Linked DNA regions of Homo sapiens: region 2 is linked to region 1. Evidence: fine-mapped expression QTL. A gene starts in region 1. The other region holds a variant in brackets. All regions are shown on one strand. Distances are between the middles of the regions. Region 1 holds the start of FCRL2 (Fc receptor like 2). Region 2 has its middle 4.8 kb from the start of FCRL3.

Evidence for each region. PIP is the estimated chance that this variant, and not a neighbour inherited with it, causes the effect. A credible set is the group of variants that fine-mapping cannot tell apart.
Region 2: its variant is the best candidate, but not a certain one, in a credible set for the expression of FCRL2 in whole blood (TOPMed, PIP 0.75).

The regions. Positions count from the first base shown.
Region 1 is chr1:157,775,377-157,778,243 of GRCh38, reverse strand. FCRL2 (Fc receptor like 2) reads left to right here and starts at 1,112. Exons shown (of 12, transcript NM_030764.4): 1 at 1,112-1,201; 2 at 2,449-2,469. The coding sequence starts at 1,171.
Region 2 is chr1:157,704,115-157,707,046 of GRCh38, reverse strand. No RefSeq gene overlaps it. Among named protein-coding and RNA genes, the nearest start is that of FCRL3, 4.8 kb to the right of the region's middle. The variant G/A (reference allele first, on the strand shown) is at 1,564.

The sequences.
Region 1 (2,867 bases):
TACTGGGACTACATCTAATCAAAGTGAGCATGATAATAGGTGTTCACATAACACGCGCTTTGCTTTGTGTGAGATAACTGTATTAGGATCAGCCTGGGGTACAAAAAGCAATGCAGATTAGAAATAGGCAATGTTGTGATTACAGATTAGAAAGATGGCAATGTTTTCAGCAATATAGTGCAAGTGTTTTGAAGTTTAGTAAAATCTCATTCTAGAAAGTCATCGAATGACTACGAAAAATTTTACTTAAGAAATATGAGCTATTGAAACAATGGCCTTATTATTTTATGAACCTTGAGAAGCAATATATCAAGATAATAGGGCACAATGTTTAAGAGCCAGACTGTGACACTGGGCTGCCTGGGTTTGAATCCCAGATCTGTTACTACTAGAAATTGATTAAGCTGATCTTGGTCATTTTACTGGCTGCTATCATCTGAATGTTTGTGTCCTGGCAAAATTCTTATGTTGATACTTAATCCTCAATGCAATAGTAATAAAAGGTACCCACCTTTTATTACATGACCTTTTAGGGGTCATGAGTGTGGAACTCTTATGAAAAGGATTAGTCTCCTTGTAAAAGAGGCTTGAGGGAGCTTGTTTGCTCCTTCCATCATGTGAAGACACATAGAGGACACCATCTATGAGAAACAGGCCCTCATCAGACACTGAATCTACTGGTGCCTTGATCTTAAACTTCCCAGCCTCTTGAACTATGAGTGATAAATTTATGTTGTTTATAAATTTCTCAGTCTAAGGTATTCTTTATAGCAGCCCCAATGGACTAAGACACTTACCTTTACTAGTGCCTCAATTTCCTTATTCATGTGAAAGGGGATAGTGCCAATTCAGAAACTTGCTGAAGGTAATAAATAACTCTGTAAGCATGAGGCACTTAGAACTGTGTCTGACTCATTGCAACCCATATGTAAATGCTAGGTATCATAATGAGGGTCAAGTTACAAAATTTCTCTGGCATTGAGAGGATCAGCTATAATTGTTTTAGCCCTTCCAGGACAAAGATAATGGTTAAACATAGTGGCACTATTCTACTTCCTTTTTTGCTAATTATACAAAACCTATTCTGAAAACCACATTTCATCGCCTGCTCAGAGTCTCCAGTTGGTGACCAAGAGTACATCTCTTTTCAAATAGCTGGATTAGGTCCTCATGCTGCTGTGGTCATTGCTGGTCATCTTTGGTGAGTTCAATAATTTGACTGAGAAGTGAGGTGGCAGCTGAATGAGGTCTACTGCTCCCAAAAGGTTGGAGGTTTTATTGGAGCCCAGGGACTGGTGGGGATGCTCAGGTCCTGCCTGCAGCTTGGGCTTCAAAGGCAGATGCAAAGAAGTAGGCTGAGGACAGTGAATTTGCAGCACATCCATTAAGCATTAAGCACAATGCTTAATGTTCAAGGTGGACCACTTTTCCATTTGCTGGTCATGAATTGCTATTTTGATATCTTAGATCTCATTGAGTAATATAATGTTCTCATAGTAAAATGTTCATAATATTAGCATTTAGCAATGCCCTTCTCCTCCATGAACACCGATTATTCAATTGTTATCTATAAGATTTGGGTTCAGCAGATGCATTGAGACCCTTTGCTAATATTCCTCTGTTTAATCGTGGACAATGAGGGAGATGACAGCTGCTGCTAGAAAATAAGATTCCTGGGTGAGTGCAGTGGCTCATACCTGTAATCCTAGCACTTTGGGAGTCCAAGGCTGGTGGATCACTTGAGGTCAGAGTTCGAGACCACCCCGGCCAACATGGTGAAACCTCATCTCTACTAAAAATACAAAAATTAGCCAGGCGTGGTGGTGGGCACCTGTAATTCCAGCTACTCGGGAAGCTGAGGCAGGAGAATTGCTTGAACCCGGGAGGTGGAGGTTGTGGTGAGCCAAGATCGCACCATTGTACTCCAGCCTGGGTGAGAGAGTAAATAAGATCCCTTTCTCTATGCTGTGTAGGCACTAAATAAATATTTGTTATTGGAATACAAAGGGCTCTAACGTGAAATATGGCCATAGGAAAGAGACTGATTTGTTGATTTCTTGGAACTCTCACAATGTATGTTTCCTGATGAGCCCTTTGTGATCGTGTTGTCATGTCTATCTACCACTTGAAAAGTCAGAGTGTGAGATAGAGTGGTGGGGATGGTGGAAGGAAAATGAAATCAAGGAGAGTCACTAAATATCCAACATGGGTATTCTCGACAATCCCTTTAGTCAAGCATTGGGTTTGCAACTTGCCTTTTGACTACAATGAATGACAGTTAGATGTGTGCTCGAGGGAGATTGAATTGTTAGTAATAAGAGATTAGGGAAATAGAAAAGAAAGGGAAAATGGAAAGAAGTTTTTGAGCAATTTACCAGAGTAATATAAATTTATAAATTATGAGGGCAAATGCTGTGTGCTAATCTCTGGCTTTTGATCTCCTCACAGATGCAGTCACTGAACAGGCAGGTGAGTCCTCCTTGTCTTTGTTGTTCTTGGTCTCTGGCATATCAGTCACCCCACTACCCCAGGATTCTATAGAGGTGGCTCTGGAAAGCCTGTGAAGATGTCCTAATATTACTGCCCTCTAGGCTGACATGTTCTGAGGTCACGCAGCCTGTTTCCAACACCACTTGCATGTCTGGGTGACCAGGTACCACCTAGCCTTCTCAAGACCCCACATGCTTGCCTCTTCCTTAAAAGCCTGGCTTTAAGAAGGGCAATAACATGCAGATTGAAGAAAAGAACAATTTGGAGAGAATTGTTTTCCTGCCCATAGGACTGTAATGCCTCTTTATTGTCTGGCTGAATGCTGAATGTTTTTACAGCTCTGAAAACAGCTATTTATAGAGGAATGTGTCAGAACT
Region 2 (2,932 bases), 71 kb after region 1:
GCTATTGTGAATAGTGCTGCAATGAACATATGCATGCAAGTATCTTTATAATCAAATGATTTATGTTCCCTTGGGTATATACCCAGTAATGGGATTGCTGGATCAAATGGTATTTCTGCCTCTAGGTCTTGGAGGAATCACAACACTGTCTTCCACAATGATTGAACTAATATATACTCTCACCAGCAGGGTATAAGCTTTCCTTTTTCTCCACAACCTTGCCAGTATCTGTTGTTTTTTGACTTTTTGATAGTAGCCATTCTGACTGGTGTGAGATGGTATCTCATTGTAGCTTTGATTTGCATTGCTCTAATGATCAGTAGTGTTGAGCTTTTTTTCATGTGTTTGTTGGTCACATATATATCTTCTTTTGACAAGTGTCTGTCCATGTCCTTTACCCACTTTTTAATGAGGTTGTTTTTTATTTTTTTCCCTTGTAAATTTGTTTAAGTACCTTGTAGATGTTGGATGTTAGACCTTTGTCAGATGGTTAAATTGCAAATATTTTCTCCCATTCTGTAGGTTGTCTGGTCATTCTGATGATAGCTTCTTTTGCTGAGCAGAAGCTCATTAGTTTCATTAGATCTCACTTGTCAATTTTTGCTTTTGCTGCAATTGCTTTTGGTGTCTTTGTCATGAAATCTTTGCCTGCGCCTATGTCCTGAAGGGTATTGCTTAGATTTTCTTCTAGGGTTTTTATAGATTTGGGTTTTACATTTAAGTTCTTAATCCATCTTGAATTAATTTTTGTATATGGTGAAAGGAGGGGTCCAGTTTCAATTTTCTGCATATGGCTAGCCAGTTCTCCCAGCATCATTTATTAAATAGCGAATCCTTTCCCCATTGCTTGTTTTGGTCAGGTTTGTCAAAGATCAGATGGTTTTAGGTGTGTGGTCTTATTTCTGGGCTCTGTACTCTGTTCCATTGGTCTATGTATCTGTTCTTATACCAATACCTTGCTTTTTTGTCACTGTTGTCTTGTAGTATAATTTGAAGTCAGGTAGTGTGATATCTCCAGGTCTGTTCTTTTTGTTTAGGATTGTCCTGTCTATTTGGACTCTTTTTTGTTCCACACACATTAAAAAAATTTTTTTTTCTAATTCTGTGAAGAATGTCAATGGTAATTTAATGGGCATAGCATTGAATCTATAAATTGTTTTTTCATGATATCAGTTCTTCCTATCCATGAGGATGGAATGTTTTTCCATTTCTTTGTGTCATCTCTGCTATCCTTGAGTAGTGGTTTGTAGCTCTCCTTGAAGAGGTCCTTCACTTCCCTTGTTAGCTGTATTCCTAGGTATTTTATTCTTTTTGTGGCAATTGTGAGTAGGAATTCATTTATGATTTGGCTCTCTGCTTGTCTACTGTTGGTGTATAGAAATTCTCATGATTTTTGCACTTTGATTATGTACCGTGAGACTTTGCTGAAGTTGCTTATCAGCTTAAGAAGCTTTTGAGCTGAGATGATGGGGTTATCTAGATATAGGACCACGTTATCTGCTAACAAACATAGTGTGACTTACTCTCTTCCTGTTTGAATACCTTTATTTCTTTCTCTTGCCT[G/A]ATTGCCCTGGCCAGAACTTCCAATCCTATGTTGAATAGGAGTGGTAAGAGAGGGTATCCTTGTCTTGGGCCGGTTTTCAAGGGGAATGCTTCCAGCTTTTGCTCATTCAGTATGATATTGGCTGTGGGTTTCTTATGCCCTAGGATGCAAGGTTCAACATATGCAAATCAATAAATGTGATTCATCCCATAAACAGAACTAAAGACAAAAGCCACATGATTATCTCAAATGCAGAAAAGGCCTTCAATAAAATTCAACATCTCTTCATGTTAAAACCTCTCAATAAACTAGACATTGAAGGAACCTATGTTAAAATAACATTTTGTGTCTTTCTTTTCCATTGAATCTATTCAAAGCATCTTGATTTTCACTTCCTCTTTGAGTGAAGTGCTCCTGACACCTCAGCTCTGAATTCAGTGAGGGACCTCTTATGTGACACAGCATCTACTCTCTCAAGTGAGCAGACCAACCTCTGCTTGATATGGAATTGTACTGGCCTAAGAAGACTGTCTCCTAGGGAATATTTTCACCTTGTACTTACATTTAGTTCAGTTAGAAAATATAACTGACCAGGTGTGTTTCCTCACACCTGGAGCCCCAGCACTTTGGGAGGCAGAGGTGGGTGGATTGTTTGAGTCTAGGAGTTCAGGACCAGTCTGGGGAGCACAGCCCCATCTGTATATGAAAGAATTAAAAAATTAAGCCACCTACAATAACTATGTAATCATGTCAGTAATTGTTTAAATGTTTTCCACCCTTGAGCCAAGAGAATGCCACATGAATTCAAGAGTAATCCATCCAGTTTGCTGCTTGGACCTGAAAGCAGGGTGAGATTTGGGGTGACTGAGACATGGGAAGCTTTTCTAGGCTTCATTCTAGCAATTTAAAACTAGATTCTCATTGGTGTTTTGTAGCATACAAGGAATCTTGGAGCCAAAAATATTATTCCAGTCACCAGTGCCTAAAAATGCTTTAGAGATTTCTATTTTTGCCCCTCCCTCCCCCCAAAAAAAACAAAACAAAAGACTATCTGCTTCAGCTATGACTACCTAGAAAATGTGACTGTGCCTACTGTGGGCCTCTGTTGAACCATCTTGCAGCCCCCAAAGTTCTGTTGCCAGGCAGCACTTGTGTCCTTCCAAGCACTTACTGCCCATACGTAAGCCCTTGCCTTGTCTGTCCCTGCTTACAAGGGCTTCGCAGCAATCTTGAAGGCCCTCACAAGTTTCTTGTGCCTTTTGCTTATTGACATTCATGGGTACAGTCCTGCCTCTATAGAAACAACCACTGACCTATGAACAAAGCCACCACAAGTCGTGTCACAAAACCATATGCCCTAAGACTGCAAGCATCTTGCCCAGGCTCAGT